Linked DNA regions of Homo sapiens. The protein of the gene in region 1 purifies or fractionates together with the protein of each later gene. This does not show direct contact. Each region holds a gene or a part of one and is shown in the gene's direction. Other genes may lie near its edges. The genes, in order: CSGALNACT2, TMX4, STX5, SLC30A6, KIAA2013, TMEM214 and MCOLN1.

Evidence for each region.
Region 2: the proteins of CSGALNACT2 (region 1) and TMX4 purify together in Homo sapiens (co-immunoprecipitation; 3 studies listed by BioGRID and IntAct, with this or other methods). This does not show direct contact.
Region 3: the proteins of CSGALNACT2 (region 1) and STX5 purify together in Homo sapiens (co-immunoprecipitation; 3 studies listed by BioGRID and IntAct, with this or other methods). This does not show direct contact.
Region 4: the proteins of CSGALNACT2 (region 1) and SLC30A6 purify together in Homo sapiens (affinity purification with mass spectrometry; 2 studies listed by BioGRID and IntAct, with this or other methods). This does not show direct contact.
Region 5: the proteins of CSGALNACT2 (region 1) and KIAA2013 purify together in Homo sapiens (co-immunoprecipitation; 3 studies listed by BioGRID and IntAct, with this or other methods). This does not show direct contact.
Region 6: the proteins of CSGALNACT2 (region 1) and TMEM214 purify together in Homo sapiens (co-immunoprecipitation; 3 studies listed by BioGRID and IntAct, with this or other methods). This does not show direct contact.
Region 7: the proteins of CSGALNACT2 (region 1) and MCOLN1 purify together in Homo sapiens (affinity purification with mass spectrometry; 2 studies listed by BioGRID and IntAct, with this or other methods). This does not show direct contact.

Annotation. Positions count from the first base shown.
Region 1 is NC_000010.11:43,176,445-43,179,944, forward strand, and holds part of CSGALNACT2 (chondroitin sulfate N-acetylgalactosaminyltransferase 2), read left to right. Parts: intron 1-3,500. UniProt on the Homo sapiens protein: Transfers 1,4-N-acetylgalactosamine (GalNAc) from UDP-GalNAc to the non-reducing end of glucuronic acid (GlcUA). Required for addition of the first GalNAc to the core tetrasaccharide linker and for elongation of chondroitin chains.
Region 2 is NC_000020.11:7,995,762-7,999,261, reverse strand, and holds part of TMX4 (thioredoxin-related transmembrane protein 4 precursor), read left to right. Parts: intron 1-3,190; coding exon 3,191-3,236; intron 3,237-3,500.
Region 3 is NC_000011.10:62,822,052-62,825,551, reverse strand, and holds part of STX5 (syntaxin-5), read left to right. Parts: intron 1-12; coding exon 13-129; intron 130-212; coding exon 213-269; intron 270-434; coding exon 435-516; intron 517-986; coding exon 987-1,093; intron 1,094-1,264; coding exon 1,265-1,386; intron 1,387-3,500. UniProt on the Homo sapiens protein: Mediates endoplasmic reticulum to Golgi transport.
Region 4 is NC_000002.12:32,172,364-32,175,863, forward strand, and holds part of SLC30A6 (zinc transporter 6), read left to right. Parts: intron 1-1,699; coding exon 1,700-1,784; intron 1,785-2,955; coding exon 2,956-2,998; intron 2,999-3,500. UniProt on the Homo sapiens protein: Has probably no intrinsic transporter activity but together with SLC30A5 forms a functional zinc ion:proton antiporter heterodimer, mediating zinc entry into the lumen of organelles along the secretory pathway.
Region 5 is NC_000001.11:11,921,260-11,923,427, reverse strand, and holds part of KIAA2013 (uncharacterized protein KIAA2013 precursor), read left to right. Parts: coding exon 1-792; intron 793-2,168.
Region 6 is NC_000002.12:27,035,965-27,039,079, forward strand, and holds part of TMEM214 (transmembrane protein 214), read left to right. Parts: intron 1-5; coding exon 6-88; intron 89-522; coding exon 523-628; intron 629-740; coding exon 741-822; intron 823-1,112; coding exon 1,113-1,214; intron 1,215-1,596; coding exon 1,597-1,738; intron 1,739-1,825; coding exon of another isoform or gene 1,826-1,837; exon of another isoform or gene 1,838-1,850; coding exon of another isoform or gene 1,851-1,928; intron 1,929-2,067; coding exon of another isoform or gene 2,068-2,181; coding exon 2,182-2,273; intron 2,274-2,519; coding exon 2,520-2,568; intron 2,569-2,737; coding exon 2,738-2,851; intron 2,852-3,082; coding exon 3,083-3,115. UniProt on the Homo sapiens protein: Critical mediator, in cooperation with CASP4, of endoplasmic reticulum-stress induced apoptosis. Required or the activation of CASP4 following endoplasmic reticulum stress.
Region 7 is NC_000019.10:7,525,624-7,529,123, forward strand, and holds part of MCOLN1 (mucolipin-1), read left to right. Parts: intron 1-815; coding exon 816-983; intron 984-1,137; coding exon 1,138-1,303; intron 1,304-1,896; coding exon 1,897-2,005; intron 2,006-2,240; coding exon 2,241-2,337; intron 2,338-2,534; coding exon 2,535-2,634; intron 2,635-2,973; coding exon 2,974-3,080; intron 3,081-3,197; coding exon 3,198-3,347; intron 3,348-3,477; coding exon 3,478-3,500. UniProt on the Homo sapiens protein: Nonselective cation channel probably playing a role in the regulation of membrane trafficking events and of metal homeostasis. Acts as a Ca(2+)-permeable cation channel with inwardly rectifying activity.

The DNA of each region.
Region 1 (3,500 bases):
CTTGTCTAGTGAACTGTTACACAAAATCCCAGTATTTAATACAAATGAAAGAAGACCTGCTCTTTCTAGCGCGTCTTGGAATCACACCTTAGTCATGCATTCCCCTAAGCCTAAAGATGGCCCATGAATAATTTGTTCTAACTATCCTGCATGCTCTGTTGTCCAGGCTGAAGAGCAGTGGCACAATCTTGGCTCACTGCAGCCTCTGCCTCCCAGGCTCAAGCGATCCTCCTACCTCAATCCCCAAGTAGCTGTGACCACAGGCGTGCACCACCACACCCAGTTAATTTTTTTGTTTGTTTTGTAGAGGCGGAGCTTCATTATATTGCCTAGGCTGGTCTTGAACTCCTGGGTTCAAGCAATCTGCCCACCTTGGCCTCCCAAAGTGCTGGGATTGCAGGCGTGAGCCACCATGCCCAGCCCCTAGCTTCAGTCTTACCCAGCAAAATATAAAGTGTCAAAGAATAGTTTAATAAAGCAGGCTGAAACCTGATTCCATGTCTTCTGATTCATTTAGGGCTAGCTACCTTTCTACAGCATAGAAGTCATAGAATATATTTTATATACATTCTAGGTCCATATCACATTCGTTTTTATAACCAGCCTTTTGTTTTGGAAATCCCCCCACCTTGTCTCCTTATCATTGTAACACTTGAATAATGGAAAATCAGGAAATAACAATAAAAGGGGCGTTAAATTAAACTGATGCTCTTTTCCTTGATTTCTTGCTTAGTTAAGCAAGCAGCATTTCACTATTCCTCAAAAATAGATTTGTGTACATTTTTTCAGTATCTTGAATGCTTTGAGTTCCTTATCTCTTTTTTATGACAATTTTATTGAGATATAGTTTACATATCATAAAATTTATTAATTTAAAGTGTACGGTTAACCAGGTCATGTAGCTATCACCACCATCAAATTTAGAGCATTTCACCCCAAAAAGAAATCCCATACCCATTAACAATCACTCCTCACATCCTACCAACCCTCTTTCCCCCCAAACTTAGGCATCTACTGGTCTACTTCCTATAGATTTGCCTCTTCTGGGAATTTAATAGAAAGCAAATTGTACAATATGTGGCCTTTTATGACTGGCTTCTTTCACTCACATAATGTTTTCAAAGTTCATCCATGTTGTGACATGTTAGGTACTTCATTCCTTTTTATAGCCAAAAAATGTTCTATTGTGTGGTTATACCACATTTTGTTTCTCCATTTGTCAGTTTATATGCATTTGAGTTGTTTCTACTTTTTGGCTATTATAAATACTGCTGCTGTGAACATTTGTGTTTAACTTTTTGGGTGGACATAGATTTTCAATTCTCTTGGACATATGCCCAGGACTCTGGCTGGGTCATATGGTAATCCTGTGTTTGACCTTTTGAGAAATTGCCACACCGTTTTCCAAAGTGGCTGCATCATTTTACATTCCCACCAGCAGTGTTTAGGAGTTCCAGTTTCCCCACATCCTCATTAATACATGTTATTATCTTTTTGTTTCTAGTATCACCCATGATAGTGGATGTGGTATTGATTGTGACTCTGATTATAATTTTTCTTATGATTAATGTTGTTGAGCATCTCTTGATGTGTTTATTGGCCATTTGTATATCTTTAGTGAAATGTCTGTTCAGATCCTTTGCCCATTTTAATTGGGTTATGGAGTTTCTTGGGCTTCTTGAATATGTACATTAATGTTTTTCATCAAATTTGGGAAGTTTCAGCCATTATAGTCATCTCTCAGTACCTGCATGGGATTGGATCCAGGATACCATGTGGAACCAAAATCCATGGTCGATCAAGTCCCTTATGTAAATATACATATTTTCATATTACCTGTGCATATCTGCCCATATACTTTAAACCATCTCTAGATTGCTTATAATACCTAATACAGGCCAGGCACGGTGGCTCACGCCTGTAATCCCAGCACTTTGGGAGGCCGAGGCGGGCAGATCACGAGGTCAGGAGATCAAGATCATCCTGGCTAACAAGGTAAAACCCTGTCTCTACTAAAAATACAAAAATTAGCCAGGCGTGGTGGCAGGCGCCTGTAGTCCCAGCTACTTGGGAGGCTGAGGCAGGAGAATGGCATGAACCTGGGAGGCGGAGTTTGCAGTGAGCCGAGATTGCACCACTGCACTCCAGCCTGGGCAACAGAGTGAGACTCCATCAAAAAAAAAAAAAAAAAACCCTAATACAATGTAAATACTATGTAAATAGTTGTTATATTGTATTTAAATTTTTATATTTATTGTTATTTTTTATCGTTTTTTTCCCTAATATTTTTGAACCATGTTGGTTGATTCTATGGGATGTGGAACTCATGCATATGGAGGGCTGACTGTATTTCTTTGAATACTTTTTCTGCTCCATTCTCATAGTTTTCTCCTTTGACACTCACTGTATGTATGTTGGTACATTTAATGGTATCCCACATTTTTCTTAGGCTCTGTTTATTTCTCTTCATTCTTTTCTCCCTCTGTTCTTCAGATTGCATAATTTCTATTGATCTATCCAAGTTCTCTGATTGTTTTTTCTGTTAGATCTACTGTTGAGCTACTCTAATGAATTTTTATTTCAGTTACTATAGTTTTTAACTTCAGAATTTCTATGTGGTTCTTTTGATATATATATAATTTCTTTATTAATACTCTATGTGATGAAACATTGTCATCTTCTGTTACTTCCTTAAGTGTGACTTCTTTTAATTCTTTGAACATACTTACAATGGCTGCTTTGGAATTTTTGTGTATTAAAGCTAATGTCTGGGCCCTAACACAGGCAGTTTTTGTTGCTTGCCGGTTTTTTTTTTTTTTTTAAGCGTATGTCACATCTTCTTGTTTCTTTGCATTCCTCATTATTTCTTTTTCGAAAACTAGACATTTTAGGTAATACACTGTGGCAACTCTGGATACTGATTTCCCTCTACCACCACGGCTTGGTTTTTTTTTTTCCTTGTTTATTTATTTATTGACATGGCTGGACTATTTTAACAAATTATTTCTTCCTCCTTCCCCGACCTTTTGGCAATATGAAGCCTCTGCTGTTGCTCCTCAGGGCCTGTGCAGTTATCCTAGGATGGCATTGGATTTAGCAGGGCTCTCTTTATCTCTTTCCATGCCTCCATTGGTATCACTCCTATTAGACTCCACTGACTGTTCACTAATTGCTGTCTTGTTTTTGACAATGCTCTGGGGCATAAATTGCTCCATAATCTGTCCCTACTAAATTGGGCCCTTTTGCAGGGATAGTTTTTGCAGCAAGTCTTTGAGATTTGTTCAGACCCCAGGAGGTATATTCTTACTATCTCTCTCTGTGGTTCTCTCTAGTAAATTAGCTGGCCTACAGTTTAGCTGTTGCCCTCCTGGAGTTACCAGCCTCCTCTTAATTGCTTACTACCAAAATCTCCATTATTTTCAAGAGGCTGGAACTTCTCTAAACTCTGAACTTCTCTACATTCTATTTTAAATAAAGTCAGTTCCTTAGGGAAGAACTTT
Region 2 (3,500 bases), on another chromosome or scaffold:
GCAAACTGTATAATACTTGGTGAGGTAGATTAGGCCAAACCATAACAGCTTTTTCCACAGTTGGTTTTAGTTTTGAATGGATTGTCATATATATAGATAATTTTATGTTAGTATATACAAGTGTAAGAAATTTCCCTACTGAAAAAGGAGCAAATCAAGCAATATTTCAGGAGTAAATCATCTAGTGGCATCTATATTAATATTAAGGAAACACATAGCTTACTCTAAAAACAACTCTCACATTTCATTCTACAACCATTTGAGCACTGATTTAGCCAGATACTTTCCTAGGTGCTAGGTATTCAACACTGAACAAGACAGACATTCACCTCAGGTACAGAGAATCATAGTTGGGATGAGGGTGGATAAAAAACACAACAACATATTTTACAAAGATGGGATAGCTCTGGGGTTATGGACCTGCTCTTCTAGATGGAGGGAGTAGGAGACATTTCTCTGAAGGGACGCCTCTAGGTGAGATCTGAATGATAGAAGGAACTAGCTTAGGCAAAGAGCAGAGGGAAGATTATTCCCAGGAATGGGTATGGCATATGCATAAGCCCCAGTTTGGAAAGGAGCTTGGTGTACTTAAGGAGCAGAATGGTGACCAGGGTCAAGCATAGTGAAAGGGAATGTAGGATGAGCTGAGTAAGAGGGGCAGGCTGAAGCCAGGTCATGCAGGGCCTGTGGCCACAGGAAAGAAGTTGGAAGTGATCAGCACACACAAGGAGAAGGTGACCCTTAGGAGAGGAGATTGGAGAGGGCAAGAATGGATGAAGTGAGTTGAGGCTTAGAGTGGTAGCTTGTGTCAGGTGGCAGCAGTGGGGATGTGGGGATGGAGAGGCTGAGTGGATTTTAAATATGTTATGAAGGTAGGCTTGGCCAAGGTGAAGGAGAAGAAGGATTCATTAATAAAAACTTACAAGTTTCTGGTTTGAGTACATGATGGATCTTGGTACTTGTTATTGCCTTGGGCAAGAGAAAATTAAGGATTCTGTATAAATCTTGTTGGGTTTGAGATGCAGACTTTGTAGAACTGTCACAGTGGATGCTGTATTAGTCCATTCTTGCATTGCTATAAAGGAATACTTGAGACTGGGTAATTTATAAAGAAAAGATGTTTAATTGGCTCATGGTTCTACAGGCTGTACAGGAAGGATGATGCTGGCATCTGCTTGGCTTCTGGGGAGGCTTCAGGAAACTTATAATCATGGTGGAAGGCGAAGGGGAAGCACATAACATCACATGGCCAGAGTAGGAGCAAGAGAGAAGGATGGAGGTGCCACACACTGTTAAACAACCAAATCTCCTGAGAGATCACTCATTATCAAGAGAATAGCACCAAGTGGATGGTGCTAAACTATTCATGAGAATCCGCCCCCATGATCCACTCTCTTTCCACCAGACCCCACCTCCAGCATTAGGGATTACAATTTGTTAGGAATAATGCTTACAATTTTAAGAAATTGAACACTTGAACAAAGGATATTTAGCAAAGCAATTTTATTTTTGCGCAGAGAGGTGCCTTTTTGGCCAGTCGCCATGAGAGCACACTTGAACAAAGGAGTACGAGAGCCTTTATTTTTGACGCAAGTCTTGCCCCTGTATCCTTTTTTTATTGGCTGGGGTCAGGTGTATAAACTAATTTTAGTTGGCTAAACATTTGAATTTTTTTAGATAAGGTGGGCACATAGAAGAAAGAGGAAAGGGGAAAGGGTGTCTGTAGTGAGTCAGAAAGTTGTTTTTTTTTTTTTAAATAAGGAAAGGAATGTGAGTTGGTACTGATAATGGCTGGTATTGTGGCATGCCTGCGCATTTAACAAAGGCAGAAAGGAAAAAGGAAAAAAAGAGGGGGTGGTTAACTCTGAATTAAAAGATTGATTAGGCTATTTGAAGGGAAACCTTATCATATCTCACAAATTGAACATACGATTTGGGTGGGGATACAGATTCAAAGCATATCAGATGCATGGAAATGGGTCCCCATGAAGAATTCAGGAACACAAAAAAACCTACAGACAATGTTGAGGTGAGGGGAACACCTAGAAAGAAGGAAAAAGAGAAGAGTACTTGGGGATGAGTCATGGGCCACCCCCAAATTAAGAAACTGTGTTGAGAAGTCAGCCAAAGGAAACTGAAAATGAGTACCAGAGAGGCAACATGAAAACCAAGGTCTGCCATTTTCCAGAAGCCAAATGAGTGTTCAAGAAGAAGGGCGTAGTCTCTTGTATCCCATGTTACTAAGAGGCGAAGGGAGATCAGGTCTGAGACATGGACATTGAATGAAACATGGTGAGGTCATCATGGCCTTGACAATCTGTTCCTGTAGTGGTGAGGGTGGAAGCCAGATTTTAATCGATTAAAGGTACAGTAGAGAAGAAACAGCATGTGTAGAGTAATCTGGAGAAATTTATCTGTGAAGCTGGAGGGTCATGTGAGGTCCAGGGATACTCTTTTTAAAGGGTAAAAGAGAGTAGAGCATGTTCATATGCCAGTGAGACTGTTCTAGGAGAGAGAGAGAAGTTGCTCGTGCAGGAAGGGAGGATGAGAGAAAGAACCAAGTCCTAATAAGACAAAATGGATAGGATCCAAGGCACAAGTGGAGGAATTGGACTGTGATAAGAGAGTTAGACTTTTCCTGTCATAACAAGAGAAGGTGGATGCAGGTGGACACCAGGCTCAGATTTGGTAGTGGGAAGATGAGAGAAAGCACATGGTGGCTTCTGATTTCACAGTGACATATGAGGAGTGCTTGTTAGCTGAGTACATGGGGATGGGAAGATGTGTACGTTTTGAAGAGAAGGAAAAGGAAATGAGCTATTTTCTTAGAGCTTAGAAAGTGCTGGACAGTATTACGTGTCCACTTAGGTTTGGGACTATGAAGCAGAAAGAACTGTCATCTGGTTATGTGATGTTTTTTCCCTGGAGACATTCAGCTGCTCAGTGTTGAGATTTTTGCCGGGTAGGCACAATGAAAGGAGAAAGGGCCAAGGAGTTGGAATAGATTTACAGCAGAGTGATTCAAATGATAGCCACTGAATCTAAGCTCTGTAAGAACAGATATGAATCTGGGAGAGGGGGCAATATTTAGCAAGAAGTGGAGGGAAATAGACCAGTCCTCCTGACCTGATTTTCATTTTTTTTTTATAGTATATATGATCACTGTTTCTTCTCTTTATTTTTTTTTAAGGATGTCTGGAATGGCTGGTCTTTTTAGCATCTCTGGCAAGATATGGGTAAGTAATCTTAAATAAAACGTTTATATTTGCAGAGAGGTTAAGAATAAAAATACAGCTTTTAAGCAATAGGAAAACAAACATTTATAAGTACATTTATAATTTCACTTTTTTTCTTAAGCCATGCAACTACTCTCATGTGGGGTTTCCAGTGGTAATGTCGTCATGTAGAAGGGCATAATCTGAACAGTAACCTGTAACTACTGTGTCGAGGTCTTATTTTCTTAAATCAGTGGTGAAGTCTTTCATCCAAGCAAAACGGCT
Region 3 (3,500 bases), on another chromosome or scaffold:
CTCTTTTACCAGGACATCAATAGCCTCAACAAACAAATTGCTCAGCTCCAGGATTTCGTGAGAGCCAAGGGCAGCCAGAGTGGCCGGCACCTGCAGACCCACTCCAACACCATTGTGGTCTCCTTGCAGGTGGGACCTGGGGAGGAAGGGAGGGAGGCAAAGAGGAAGAATGTGGAGCCTTCTTTGGTTGACCCTCTCTCCTTTTCTTCTAGTCGAAACTGGCTTCTATGTCCAATGACTTCAAATCGGTTTTAGAAGTGAGGACAGAGGTGAGAACAATCTGCGTAGGAGGGGTAGGAATATGGGAGTAAAGATCCAAGAGGGAAATGAAGAAGGGACAAGTTCTACAGGGTCATGGGGCCAATGGTGGGAGTCTCTTTAACATGCCTGCTTTCTAGTGGCTTCAGGTCCTTTGCGTTTTTCCCCAACCCCAGAACCTGAAGCAGCAGAGGAGCCGGAGAGAGCAGTTCTCCCGGGCACCTGTGTCAGCCCTGCCCCTTGCCCCTAACCACCTGGGTAAGTCACAGGTAAAACGGGGAGCCCTGGGAGGTAAGGTTACTTACTCTGGTTGTGATGGCATCCTCTAAAGGCACGGGTTGGGTAGGAGAGTGGAAGGTCAAGGAATTTTCTAGGCTTTATCTCTCAGAGGCCAAACCAGATGGTTGAGATTCGTGATCCACATTTAGACTCCCACATTCTCACTGTTGGGGTGAATTCAGTTATATTCAGAATAATGATAATTTCTAATTTTTTTTCGTACACTTTATTCACATTCTCTCATTTAATTTTCACAACCACCCTTTGAGAAAGCAACTATTATTATCCCCCATTTTACAGGTGAGGAAACTGAGGCTCAGAGAGGTTAAATGACCTGTCCAGGGTCACAAGGCTAGTAAGTGCTAGAGCTGGGATTCAAACCCAGAGCATGTGGGCTTTGAACCTGCTTTTAACTGTTAAGGTGTGCCACATCCTGTTTTCTCCCCCAGGCGGTGGTGCTGTGGTTCTGGGGGCAGAGTCCCATGCCTCCAAGGATGTCGCCATCGACATGATGGACTCTCGGACCAGCCAGCAGCTGCAGCTCATTGACGAGCAGGTACCCAGGCTCTGAACTAGGTAGAATCAGCTTCTCCATTATCCTCTGTGGTTCCCGAGAGAGTGTTTGGAGTGTGCCATGGGCAGAATGGCAAGCTGGGAGGGTTGTAAAAATGCAGGTCTGACCCTGAAGAAGCTGTTGGTGCTCATGTGCTCTCTCCCTCTCCTGAAGGATTCCTACATCCAGAGTCGGGCAGACACCATGCAGAACATTGAGTCGACAATTGTTGAGTTGGGCTCCATCTTTCAGCAGTTGGCACACATGGTTAAGGAACAGGAGGAAACCATTCAGAGGTGAGATACACTCTCTCGCCCCAAACAGAGGAGCTTTCTCTTCCCCGTGGATTGGCATCTTAAAGTCCCCAGGGACTGCTTGATGCCTTTTGGAAGATAGAGTGAATTCTGCCCACCCATGGGACCCAGTTCACCTGCTTCCATCCACCCAACAAGTTTTTATTGAGCACCTGTTCATGTGAGGCACTGTTCCAGGTGCGGGAGATACAGTGGCAAGTAGAACAGTAAAGTCTGTCTGGAGCTGCTTTGTAGCATGTGTAAGTGTATGGAATTTGATAGGGCAGATGAGGACAGCTGTGGAAAAGAACTGACAAGGCTGGCACAGTGACTCACACCTGTAATCCCATAGGCAGCACTTTGGGAGGCCGAGCAATGCAGATCGCTTGAGTTCAGGAATTCAAGACCAGTTTGGGCAACAAAGCAAGACCCTGTCTCTACAAAAAAATACAAAAACTAGCTGGGCATGGTGGCATGGGCCTGTAGTCCCAGCTACTCGAGAGGCTGAGGTGGGAGGATGGCTTGAGCCTGGGAGGCAGAGGTTGCAGTGAGCCAAGATCGTGCCACTGCACTCCAGCCTGGGTGACAGAGCCAGATTCTGTGTCAAAAAAATAAAAATAAAAAATTGACCAACAAAATTTCAGGGAGTAATAAAGGCTGTATACAGAGTTAAAATAGGATGATGTGTTAAGAAAGTAATGGATGGGTACGGTGGCTTACACCTGTAATTCCAGCACTTTGGGAGGCCCACACAGTCAGTTGAACTCAGGAGTTCAAGACCAGCCTGGGCAACATGGTGAAACCCCATCTCTACAAAAATAAAAAAATTAGCTGGACATGGTTGCGTGTGCCTGTGGTTCCAGCTACTCGGGAGGCTGAGGCGGGAGGATGACTTAAGCATGGGAGGTTGAGGCTGCAGTGAGCCATGATGGAACCACTGCGCTCCAGTCTGAGTGACAGAGCAAGACCCCATCTCAAAAAAAAAAAAGAAAGTGACTAAGTAGGTATATCAGATTGTGTGGTAGGGAATGCTGCTCTGAAGACATGACATTTAAGCAGAGACTTGAATGACAAGAGGGATCCAACCAGGCAAAGAACAGAGAGTGTTCTAGGCCGAGGAGACAGCTAGAGCAAAGCCTTGTGATGGGACAGTCTCACCATAGCAAGAATCAAGAAGGCCTGCGTGGCTAGAAAGTAATGAACAGGGATAGAGAAGTACAGGGTGTACTGGAGGGATGTAGGCAGAGGCCCAACAATGGGCTGGCCTCTCTGTTCCTCTGGTGCCTCCTGCTACTACAAGAGTTTTTATCTGCTCCTCCTCTGTGGTGCTTAGCATTCAGTCAGTCAGTTATGGGAATATAGCAGTGGACAAAAGAGACAAAATCCTTGCCCTTGTGGAACGTGTATCCTAATAGGGAGATAGATGTGAAAAAGTCATAATAAATAGTATGTTAAAAAAAAAAAAGGTCGTAAATGCCAAAAAAAAAAAAAAAGATAGTCAACACAGGATAAACTAATCAGGAGTGCCAGGTTTGGAGGGAGGTAGGCCCTATTAAGAAGGTGGCATCACACTTGGGAGAAGGTGAGGAAATTAGCTACATAGACCCTGGCAAAGGCCCGCAGGTGACAATATGTTTGATGAGTTAAAGGACAGCAGAGACTACTGCAGCTGGGATCAATGAGGAAGAGAGTTGTACAAGGTGTGGTCAGAGGGGAACTGTGAGACCTCTTGGGACCATTGGTAGGCTTTAGCTTTTACTCTGAGTGACATAGGGAGCCATTGCAGGGGTTAGTTTTTCTGTGTTTGAGACAGAGCCTTGCTGTGTCGCCCAGGCTGGAGTGCAGTGGCATGATCTTGGCTCACTGCAACCTCCACCTCCTAGGTTCAAGTGATTCTCATGCCTCAGTCTCCCGAGTACCTGGGACCACAGGTGTGCACCGCCATGCCCGGCTACTTTTTGTATTTTTAGTAGAGACAGAGTTTTGCCACATTGGCCAGGCTGGTCTTGGACTCCTGGCCTCCAGTAACCTGTCCACCTTGGCCTCCCAAAGTGCCGGGATTACAGGTGTGAGCCATCACAACTGGCCAAATACATTTAACTTTATTTATTTATGCA
Region 4 (3,500 bases), on another chromosome or scaffold:
TTATCATTTCCCTCCTTTTTGTTCTTTTTTTTTTGAGATGGAATCTTGCTAAATTATCCAGGCTGGTCTTGAACTCCTGGGCTCAAGGGATCCTCCTTCCTCAGCCTCTTGAGTAGCTGGGATTACAGGGGTACACCACCACTCCCAGCTAGTATCATTTTCTTTTATATGTTCTCAACTCTTTTGTGCTCCCCTTCCCTCTGTCTTAATTCCTGGAAAATCCCTAACCTTCATTAAGTTCACTTTCTTTCTACTCTACTTGCATCTAAGCAACTGAATGTAACCTGAGAGAAACAAAACCATGCGACTGGTCTCACTTTGAATTCATGATCAGACAGACCATTAGTGCTGCCTATTAAGTGCTGCCTATTAGTGCTCTTTCATTTTATATTTCCTTTGTTCATTCAATTTTCCAATTTCCTAGATGGCTGTTTCATACGATGTTCTTTCGTTTCTATCCTCAAGCTTCTAATACCTTCTTCATCCTCACCCTAACCTGATGATCTTGCTTCCTGTTTCACCAAGGGAAAAGAAGTAATCAGAAGAAAACTTCTACATCCTATCATTAGCACATCAGCCATCACTCCGCCTTCCCTCCTATTTCTCTGGACAAGCTTTCAGTTCTTCTCTATAAAGGCAATCCTTTCACTTGTTGCCTACTGAAAGATGATGTCCCTATAATTGTTCTGTTTCTTACATCATTGTTTTTCTTGCATCATGCATCATTCTCCTCTTTCTTGCATCGTAATTACATGTTATAAGTTCCACTCTCAGGGCTGCTTCATTTCTCAGCTTCCTTTTGTAGCAAACCTACTTGAAAGAATTATCAGTACATTGTGTTCACCTTCTCTTCTCCTCATCTTTATTAAACACATACCAGTTAGGTACTTGTGCCCACTAATTCACATAAACAGCTTTTACAAGGTAACCAAAAATCTCTGTGTTGCCAAAATGAAGATTTTTCCTTATTTCTCACCTTACTTGGTTGATGTTGAACAGCCAAAGTCAGTACTTTTTTTTTTTTTTTTGAGACAGAGTCTCGCTCTGTCGCCCAGGCTGGAGTGCAGTGGCACAATCTCATCTTACTGCAACCTCTGCTTCCCTGGTTCAAGCGATTCTCCTGCCTCAGCCTCCCAAGTAGCTGGAAATAGAGGTGCCTGCCACCACACCTGGTTGATTTTTTGTTTTAGTAGAGACGGGGTTTCACCATGTTGGCTAGGCTGATCTTGAACTCCTGACCTCCACCCACCTTGGCCTCCCAAAGTGCTGGGATTGCAGGAGTGAGCCATTGCACCTGGACAAGATTACTAACTTTTAGGAACATCATCATGCCCTTTATTCAGATTCACCAGTTGCTTACATTTGGCCCCATTTGCTTCATCGTTGTCTCTATAATATGTACTTATAGAGACAAAACGATATGCATATGTATGTGTATTTTTCTCAACTATTTGAGAATTTCTATGTCAGAATTTATTTTCTCTTGAACAACTCTCCTTCTGGAACTATTCTTTTAAACTTGTATACTGTAATAACTTAGCCGATGACAATTTTGGTAGATGTAGAAAGTGTGACACAGACTTTTTGAAGGAAGTTATGTTTATTCCTTTGAATATCAGAGTATAAATTGTAGCAACTTGAACAGACCCCGTGAAATTTATCACTTCTGTACACATAAGAGTGATTTTTATTTTCACAGTCCTGGAAGATACTGCTCTTTGGTGTAATAAACTTGATATGTACTGGCTTCCTGCTTATGTGGTGCAGTTCTACTAATAGTATAGGTATGTCACCTTTGTATTTTTATGGAGTTGTTATTTTTACTTTTATTTTTCTCATTGGAAATAAAGGTATATCTTACATAGAATATATTATTCTGAAATGTATATAACTCAAATGATTTAAATAAGGGACTATATTTAAAACTTCCCTGTAAACTGTAAACTTTTGTTCATTTGTTAGGATTGTAATTTTTTTTTAAGTTTTTTTCCTTTTAAAATATATTTTAAAACAGAAATGGGGTTTCGCCATGTTGCCCAGGCTGGTCTCAAAATCCTGAGCTCAAACGATCTACCCACCTTGGCCTCCCAGAGTGCTGGGATTACAGGCGTAAGCCACAATGCCTGGCCATTTTCATTTTAAATAAGCTGTTATTTTTTGAAAAATCATTAAATCTATCTGGAGATTTTTTTTTTTTTTTTTTTTTTTTGAGACGGAGTCTCACTCTGTTGCCAGGCTGTAGTGCAGTGGTGTGATCTTGGCCCACTGCATCCTCCACCTCCCTGGTTCAAGCGATTCTCCTGCCTCAGCCTCCCAAGTAGCTGGGATTACAGGCACGTACCACCACGCCTGGCTAATTTGTGTAGTTTTGGTAGAGATGGGGTTTCACCATGTTGGCCAGGATGGTCTCGATCTCCTGACCTTATGATCCACCCGCCTCAGCCTCCCAAAGTGCTGGGATTACAGGCGTGAGCCACCGTGCCTGGCTGGAGATTTGTTTTTAATATAATAGATTAAAACTTTAATTTATGCAGTTTGTAAGTTAGATTTTGAGGTTTGTTGGCTTTTCCTTAAAAAGGGAATTCTGTAATTTTTTTCTTATATCTTTTTATGTTTTTTATTGCATTGTTCTTTTGTTCAGTTATTCAAACAATACATTTGAAATAGCGCTGAGATTACAGAAGCAGGCAGAAAAATGGTAACAGGGCTTTTGAACATTCATTGCTTCATTTTTCCTAATGGAGAAATCAGGTTGGGAAGTAAGCTTTTCTACCAACGAACTTTGGCTACATATATTTATCAGATTTACTAGATAACTGCCAATATATGAGGTTGGCCCGTGACTCAAAAGTTTTTTTGATAATGGATACCCCTGGTAGAAATAATTTTGGTAACTTGCTGTATTTTTTTAGAGGGGTCAGTAATACTTTTAATCATTTTTTTGTTGTTTTGCAGCTTTAACTGCCTATACTTACCTGACCATTTTTGATCTTTTTAGGTAAGTTTTTAGGAAATCTTAATGTTTTGGAGCTAATAAGGAACTTGGTAGAAATGTGGTATAGCCATACAATTCAGCAATAAAAACAGCAACTACTGATATCTTACAAGAAAACAATAAAAACATTATGCTTTGAAGACAGTCATAAAGGACCACATATTTTATGATTTCATTTATATGAAATGTCCAAAACAGGCAAATCTATGGAGAGAAAAAGTAGATTATGAAGAAGTTTTCTTTGCTTAAAGGAAAGTAATCTACTAAATAAGTAAAATTATCAACATAGAACAAACACACAAACAACAATAATTAGAGACATAACAGTAATTAGAGAGCAGGTGGGGCGGCTCATGCCTGCAATTCCAGCACTTTGGGAGGCCGAGGCGGGTGGATCACTTGAGGTCAGGAGTTTACGACCAGCCTGGCCAACATGGTGAAACCCCGTCTCTACTAAAAATACAAATAGCCAGGCATGGTGGTGTATGCCTGTAGTCCCAGCTAC
Region 5 (2,168 bases), on another chromosome or scaffold:
CTCTATTACATGCTCTCCTGCTCGCCAGCCCCACTGCTCAGCCCCTCCCTGAGCCACAGGGAGCGAGACCAGATGGAGTCGACGCTCAACTATGAAGATCACTGCTTCAGCGGGCACGCCACCATGCACGCCGAGAACCTGTGGCCGGGGCGGCTGTCCTCCGTCCAGCAGATCCTGCAGCTCTCTGACCTGTGGAGGCTGACCCTCCAGAAGCGTGGCTGCAAGGGGCTGGTGAAGGTGGGTGCCCCAGGCATCCTGCAGGGGATGGTGCTCAGCTTTGGGGGGCTGCAGTTCACAGAGAACCACCTCCAGTTCCAGGCCGACCCCGACGTGCTGCACAACAGCTATGCATTGCATGGCATCCGCTACAAGAACGACCATATCAACCTGGCCGTGCTGGCGGATGCCGAGGGCAAGCCCTACCTACACGTGTCCGTGGAGTCCCGTGGCCAGCCTGTCAAGATCTATGCCTGCAAGGCAGGCTGCCTGGACGAGCCAGTGGAGCTGACCTCGGCGCCCACGGGCCACACCTTCTCGGTCATGGTGACACAGCCCATCACGCCACTGCTCTACATCTCCACCGACCTCACACACCTGCAGGACCTGCGGCACACGCTGCACCTCAAGGCCATCCTGGCCCATGATGAGCACATGGCCCAGCAGGACCCCGGGCTGCCCTTCCTCTTCTGGTTCAGCGTGGCCTCCCTAATCACCCTCTTCCACCTCTTCCTCTTCAAGCTCATCTACAACGAGTACTGTGGGCCTGGAGCCAAGCCCCTCTTCAGGAGTAAGGTAGGAAGCCGCCATCTGGTCGAAACCCGAGGCCTTGGCCTTGCTCTCAGCCCTGTGTCTCGGAAGGGGCTAGCCTGGCGAGGGGGGGTGAGGCCTGGGCAGGAATGGGTGTCCTGATGCCCTCAGCCCTTGACACCAGAGAGCGCGCACAAGTGTTTTGAGAGGAGACGACGAGGAAGGGAAAGCTGGAAATCCAGGTGTGAATTGATGGTCTTCTGGCTTTCCAGGGCAGCCCTCCCCTCCTCCCGCATCATAAATCTCAGCATTTAAAAATAACTGCAAGCTGGGTGTGGTGGCTTGTGCCTGTAGTCCCAGCTACTTGGGAGGCTGAGATGGGAGAATCCCTTGAGCCCAGGAGTTTGAGGCTGCAGTGAACTATGATTGTGTCATTGCACTCTAGCTGGGGCAACAGAGCAAGACCCTGTCTCAAAAAAGCAAAAAACAAAAAAGCAAATAAAAGTAAAAAAAAAAAAAAAAAAAAAATTAGAGGCAGGGCCTGGTGGCTCATGCCTATAATCTCAACACTTTGGGAGGCCGAGGTGGGAGGATCCTTCGAGCCCAGTAGTTTGAGACCAGCCTGGGCAGGATAACGAGGACTTGTCTCTACAAAAAATTTAAAAATCAGCCAGGCGTGATGGTGCACGCTTGTAGTCCCAGCTACTTAGGAGGCTGAGGTGGGAGGATCACTTGAGCCCAGGAGTTTGAGACTGCAGTGAGCTGTGATTACACCATTGCACTCCATCCCAGGTGACAGAGTGAGACCCTGTCTAAAAATAATAATAATGAGGCTGGGTGCAGTGGCTCATGCCTATAATCCCAGTACTTTGGGAGGCTGAGGCGGGCAGATCACCTGAGGTCAGGAGTTCAAGACCAGCCTGGCCAACACGGTGAAACCCCATCTGTACTAAAAATACAAAAATTAGCTGGGCATGGTGGTGCATGCCTGTAATTCCAGCTACTCGGGAGGCTGAGGCAGGAGAATTGCTTGAACCCGGGAGACGGAGGTTGCAGTGACCCGAGATCATGCCAGTGCACTCCAGCCTGGGTGACAGAGTGAGACTCTGTCTCAAAAAAATAAAAAATAAATAATAAATAATAATAATAATAAAATAAAAATAACTGCAACAAGCCCCTAGATTGACTTGAAGCCTCTGTCTGAACTGCTGGCGGGATCCCCAGCTTCCCCCCATGTGCCTGTTCATGGCATGCAGAGGTCAGCCCCTTGCTCCAGGCCTCGGACCAGAGTGGCCATCTCGTTAGCATAGGACACAGGACAGAAGCATTGCCCTCAAGTTTCCTGAGACATGTTTGCCCCTGGAAGCGGTGATTTTGGCCATCATTGCTGCAAGACTGTCATCGGGGCAGCATCTTAGCAT
Region 6 (3,115 bases), on another chromosome or scaffold:
TCCAGGGGAGTCACTACATGGTTACCGCATCTGTATCCAGGCCATCCTGCAAGACAAGCCCAAGATTGCCACGGCAAACCTAGGCAAGGTGAGCTCTCAGTGATGGTGGGGATGCTAGGAAGCTAGGACTGGGGAGGCTGGGCAGAATCTATGTTGTTGGACTCAGGTTTGGGATAGTGGAAGACCTGTAAGCCTAGTAATAATGGGTAACACTATTAGCACCTATCCTGTGTGTGTGCTCTGGAAACATAGGAGCAAGGTACTGCTATTATTTCCCATTTTTATAGATGAAAAGATTGAGCCACAGAGGAGTTCAGTAACTTTCCTAGGCTCAGTCATCCAGTAAATGGCAGAGTATGGGCGAAGCCCACAAACAGAACCTGCACCACGTGGCCATAGTGCTCCACTCTTGCTCGGCCTGTCCTCCCTCTTCCAGTTGACATCTCCCTTCCCTCCTGGCTTTGGGGGGTGCTCCTGGTGTTTTGTCCTATCCCAATCTGCCTTCCCCACCGGTCTCCTCAGTTCCTGGAACTGCTGAGGTCCCACCAGAGCCGACCAGCAAAGTGTCTCACCATCATGTGGGCCCTGGGTCAAGCAGGTTTTGCCAACCTCACCGAGGGACTGAAAGGTAACAGGGAAATAGGGAAGAAAGAGGGAGGGTCTCGGAGCTGGAAAACTCCTCTTTGATGCCCCCAGTAGGTGCAAGCCTGAGGCCTCCCTCGTGACTTTTACCCCTGCAGTGTGGCTGGGGATCATGCTGCCTGTGCTGGGCATCAAGTCTCTGTCTCCCTTTGCCATCACATACCTGGATCGGCTGCTCCTGTGAGTAATGGGAGGGCAGCAAGGGGAAGGCTCAGGGTGTCCCAAGTGGCTGTTATAGCAAAATGGGAGGCTATGATCTTGGTCTCCATGGATATGAGGAAAATCAGGACCAGCTTCTCCCACCACCTTAGAATGTGATGGTGAGGAAGGAAGAAGAGGGAGCTATTAAGGGCTGGCAGATGGGGTAGAGTTTATACCCTTTTTCCTAGATGTTGGCTTAGCTGGGGTCATGGCCAAAACAGCTGGCATGGGTGGTGGTGTCCAGCGAGCCTGTTTCTTCATCCCCACAGGATGCATCCCAACCTTACCAAGGGCTTCGGCATGATTGGCCCCAAGGACTTCTTCCCACTTCTGGACTTTGCCTATATGCCGAACAACTCCCTGACACCCAGGTAGGACTGCTCTGGGGCACACCTGCTGAGAAGGGACCACAGCACCAGAACCACACTACATATTCCCGTCTCTCCTTCCCCAGCCATCCTAGATCTGAGATTTGCAACCTGGAAGTTCAAGAGTAGGTTTCAAGGGAACAGTGACCCCTTGAAATTATATGGACCCTTGAGTGTGATTGGCATATGGGCATTTTCTTAGGGATAGGGTCCATGGCTTTCAACAGATTTCCAAGGAGTCTCTGAGTAAAAAGATTCAGAGCCATTGCAAGGTCCTCAGTGGCTATTCCCCACAGGCAGGCATGGGCTCTGAAGCAAGCAAAAGGTTCATATCATACAGCTCCACTTATAGCTTATGCCTGTCTTTCCTCCCCACCCCACCCAGCCTGCAGGAGCAGCTGTGTCAGCTCTACCCCCGACTGAAAGTGCTGGCATTTGGAGCAAAGCCGGATTCCACCCTGCATACCTACTTCCCTTCTTTCCTGTCCAGAGCCACCCCTAGCTGTCCCCCTGAGATGAAGAAAGAGGTGAGGATATGGTGGGAGGCTTTTTCTCCTTCCCCAGGGGTCAGCTGTAGCGGTCCCTATCTGCTGACAAAGGCCTTGCCTTCACAGAGCCCATTCTGAGGCTTTTCCTTAGCTCCCTGTTGACAGCTGCCTGCCCCGCTCACTCGAGCTTCACCCTCAGAAGATGGATCCCAAGAGACAGCACATTCAGGTCTGGGTGGTTTCTGATGCCCGTCTCTTGCAGATAGTGATCTTTGAGCTCAAAGCTCTAGCTCAGGAGCCCCAGCCTCCTGCTTTACAGCCTCTCAGAGAGCTTTCTGGAGTCTTGACACTGTTTCTCCACCCCTTAGGGTGGATGTGCGGCCTGGATGGCCTTGCTTACGGGAAGGGGATCACCTCTTAGCACTCCCCGCCTCTGCCAGCCCCATGCCCCCAGCAGCCTCTCCCTCTGTCGTGCTGTGCAGCTCCTGAGCAGCCTGACTGAGTGCCTGACGGTGGACCCCCTCAGTGCCAGCGTCTGGAGGCAGCTGTACCCTAAGCACCTGTCACAGTCCAGGCAGGTGGGGTGGGAGGCCAGCCTGTCCCTGTGCTAGAAGCAGAAGGGGAGCCTGGGTCACTGTCCCATGGCCTGACACCTTTCAGGCTGAGTGGGAACATTGCTGGAGCAGCCTCTAGGAAGCTGCTGCTCTGTGGGTGGTAGGTGGAGGGTCTTTCAGCCTGAAGGAGCCAGGGCTAATGGAGGACAGGAGGATGGGTGAGGCTGCGCGAGCCACCTGACTAGGGGGTTGTGCTTTCCCCACAGCCTTCTGCTGGAGCACTTGCTCAGCTCCTGGGAGCAGATTCCCAAGAAGGTGAGGAGCTGGGAGGACGTGGCAGGTTGAGCCCTGTCTGGATTCTAGGTTCTGAGTGGGGGCTCCTCAGCCACTGTCCCTTCCCTGAGAAGGGACCCTGTTGGCATGGAAAATGAAGCAGGATGGAAGCTCTGGATTCCCTCACAGGCCAGACCTTTCTTGTCCATAGGTACAGAAGTCTTTGCAAGAAACCATTCAGTCCCTCAAGCTTACCAACCAGGAGCTGCTGAGGAAGGGTAGCAGTAACAACCAGGATGTCGTCACCTGTGACATGGCCTGCAAGGTGCTGGCACCCGGTCCTCTCCAGCCCACACGCTATCTTACATCTCTGTCTCAGCACACCTGGGTTGGGCCTGTATCACATTCCTGCCCCACCTGTCTGGAGCCCCCCGCTGCCTCCAGGATAATGTGAAGGCTTGACGCTCTTTCGGGAAGGCCTGGCTTGAGGTCTGCCCTCAGAGGCAAAGACCAGCCCCTCGCTTCTGACAACTGTCTCCTGCTCCCCTCCCACCAGGGCCTGTTGCAGCAGGTTCAGGGTCCTCGGCTG
Region 7 (3,500 bases), on another chromosome or scaffold:
GATAGTTCTCCCTCCCCCATGCCAGACCCTGTGCTGGGCTCTGGGAACCCCAAGATGAATCAGACCCAGCCACTGCCCTAAGTGCTTACTTCATGTTTTGGGCTGACTTTAGCATGTCACCATGCCTCTAATTTTCCCTCTGAAAAGGGACCCAATTGTCCAGGCATGGTGGCTCATGCCTGTAATGCCAGCACTTTGGGAGGCTGAGTTGGGTGGATCATTTGAGGCCAGGAGTTTGAGACCAGCCTGGCCAACATTGCAAAACCCCGTCTCTACTAAAAATACAAAAATTAGCTGGGTTTGGTGGCAGGTACCTGTAACTCAGCTACTCAGGAGGCTGAGACAGGAGAATTGCTTGAACCCAGGGGGTGGAGGTTGTAGTGAGCTGAGATCATACCATGGCACTCCAACTTGGGCAACAGAGTGAGACTCTGTCTCAAAAAAGAAAAGAAAAGGGACCCAGTCATGGTACTTACCCTGAAAGTTTGGGTTTAACACAGAATCGGACATCCAGTAAACATTTAATGAACGTTAGTCCCTGCAGTGAGATAGATGAGTCCCCACCCTGTGTTGTACGGGGGAGGACACAGTGGTGGGCGTGGCATGGAGCTTATGCCAGGAGGTGGGGTGAAATTAATCAAAGCAAAGAAATGCACAAGTGAAATCCGTGTTTGTGGCCCAAGTTAGCAGGGCCCTGCCCCACCCCAGTGGACATCTGCAGGGCCCTCCCTGTCCTCTTCCAGGGCCTGTGCCCTGAGGGAGATACACCCCAACCCCCATCCTAGCCATGCCAACCTCTACTACCCTCTCCCCAGCTCATCCTGTTTGGGCTCAGTAATCAGCTGGCTGTGACATTCCGGGAAGAGAACACCATCGCCTTCCGACACCTCTTCCTGCTGGGCTACTCGGACGGAGCGGATGACACCTTCGCAGCCTACACGCGGGAGCAGCTGTACCAGGCCATCTTCCATGCTGTGGACCAGGTGCTGGTGGGCGGGCAGGTGCTGGTGGGCAGGCAGGTGCAGGTGGGCGGGCAGGTGCAGTTGGGCGGGCAGGTGCTGGTGGGCGGGCAGGTGCAGGTGGGTGGGCTGCAGAGAGCGGGCCGGACTCACAGGCCCTCCCCTTCTCTGCCCACAGTACCTGGCGTTGCCTGACGTGTCACTGGGCCGGTATGCGTATGTCCGTGGTGGGGGTGACCCTTGGACCAATGGCTCAGGGCTTGCTCTCTGCCAGCGGTACTACCACCGAGGCCACGTGGACCCGGCCAACGACACATTTGACATTGATCCGATGGTGGTTACTGGTGAGTGGGCAGGACGAGGCTTCACTGTTGGGAGCCTGAGCTGCTGGGATTAAAATCAACAGCTGTGGCTGGGCACGGTGGCTCACGCCTATAATACCAGCACTTTGGGAGGCTGAGGAGGAAGGATTGCTTGAGGCCAGAAGTTTGAGACCAGCCTGGGCCACGTAGGAAGACCTTGTCTCTACGCACAAACAAATTAGCTGGGCGTGGTGGCGTGCCCCTGTGGTCCCAGCTACTCAGGAGGCTGAGGCAGGAGGATCGCTTGAGTCCGGGAGGTTGAGGCTGCAGTAAGCTATGACCACGCTGCTGCACTCCACCCTGGGTGACAGAGTGAGACCCTGTCTCAAAAAAAAAAAAAAAAAAAAAAAACAAGTATGCTTAGTGTGAGTGTGACTCTTGCCACGTAGAAAGCACCAGATGTTATATTTTAATATGGCTCATTCAGTAAAACATCCGCAGGCCCAGAGAGTGCCAGGCCTGTAGGAATGACCCAACCCTGGGGAAGCACAGGGAAGAAGGCCACTGGGGACTCTGGGGAGACCAGCCTGGCCTCCCCGGCCCCCTGAGGCCCTTCCCTGACTCCCTGTCCTTAGACTGCATCCAGGTGGATCCCCCCGAGCGGCCCCCTCCGCCCCCCAGCGACGATCTCACCCTCTTGGAAAGCAGCTCCAGTTACAAGAACCTCACGCTCAAATTCCACAAGTACTGCCTGCTCACTCGAGGGGGGCCCAGGGTGGGGGAGGCAGCACACTAGGCACTCTCACCCCAGCAACTACTTCCCTAAGGTGGGGACAGGGCCCCCCCGCCCGCGCTGGTGCCTGCTGGGTGAGCACTTCCCCTGCCAGCTGCAGAGTCAGCACGTGGCAGGGGACGCTGGCACTTGGGGCCGGAAGGGACCCGAAGACGCCCCTGACCCTCACCCGAGCCTCCTGCCTAGGCTGGTCAATGTCACCATCCACTTCCGGCTGAAGACCATTAACCTCCAGAGCCTCATCAATAATGAGATCCCGGACTGCTATACCTTCAGCGTCCTGGTGAGGCCCCCCGGGAACCCACAGGGCTCCTGAGTTCCAGGGCAGGGACCTGGTCAGGGAGTGTCTTGGGAGCACTGGCCAAGGGCAAGCGTGCGGGTGATGAGGGAGGGAGCCCGGGGTCTGTCAGGCCACCTGTCATGTGGACCTTGGGGCTTGGGGCTGCCAAGGTTTACTCTGCCCCCAACTGGCCCCCACAGATCACGTTTGACAACAAAGCACACAGTGGGCGGATCCCCATCAGCCTGGAGACCCAGGCCCACATCCAGGAGTGTAAGCACCCCAGTGTCTTCCAGCACGGTGAGCCCCTGAGCCCCAGACCAGCACTGACCAGGGGCCCTGGCCTGTCCTGGGATTCCCCAAGCCCCAGATCAGCGCTGCCTGGGGGCCGTGACCTCCCCAGGAATCCGCTGAGCCTCAGATCAGCACAGACCAGGGACCCCGTCCTGTGCTGAGATCCCCCAAGCCCCAGACCAGCACTGACCGGGGTTCTTGACTCACCCCAAGCAAGCCCTGAGCCCACTGACCAACCAAAACCAGCCGTGCAGCCCCCTAGGTCTCCAGCCTGGCCTGGCACCAATGCTAGCCTCCCAAGGCTCCATGCCATCCTTGGCCCTACCCGCTCTGCCCTCCCCGCAGGAGACAACAGCTTCCGGCTCCTGTTTGACGTGGTGGTCATCCTCACCTGCTCCCTGTCCTTCCTCCTCTGCGCCCGCTCACTCCTTCGAGGCTTCCTGCTGCAGAACGTGAGGCTTCTGCGTCATGTGTGCTGGTGTCCTCCCCGCCTGGCCCTGGGGCGATAAAAGCCAGGGCTTTGAGGGTCCTGTGCCTGGTCAGGCCCTCACCCCGCCTGCCTTCTGCAGGAGTTTGTGGGGTTCATGTGGCGGCAGCGGGGACGGGTCATCAGCCTGTGGGAGCGGCTGGAATTTGTCAATGGCTGGTACATCCTGCTCGTCACCAGCGATGTGCTCACCATCTCGGGCACCATCATGAAGATCGGCATCGAGGCCAAGGTGCGTCCTGCCAACACCCTGGGCCCCAGGTCCCATCCCTGCTGTCAGTGCCTATCCGGGGCCATATCCTCCCCCAGGCCCCCCAAAGGAAGGGCTGGGCCAGATAGGTTGACGCAGCTCCCACCCGCAGAACTTGGCGAGCTACGACGTCTG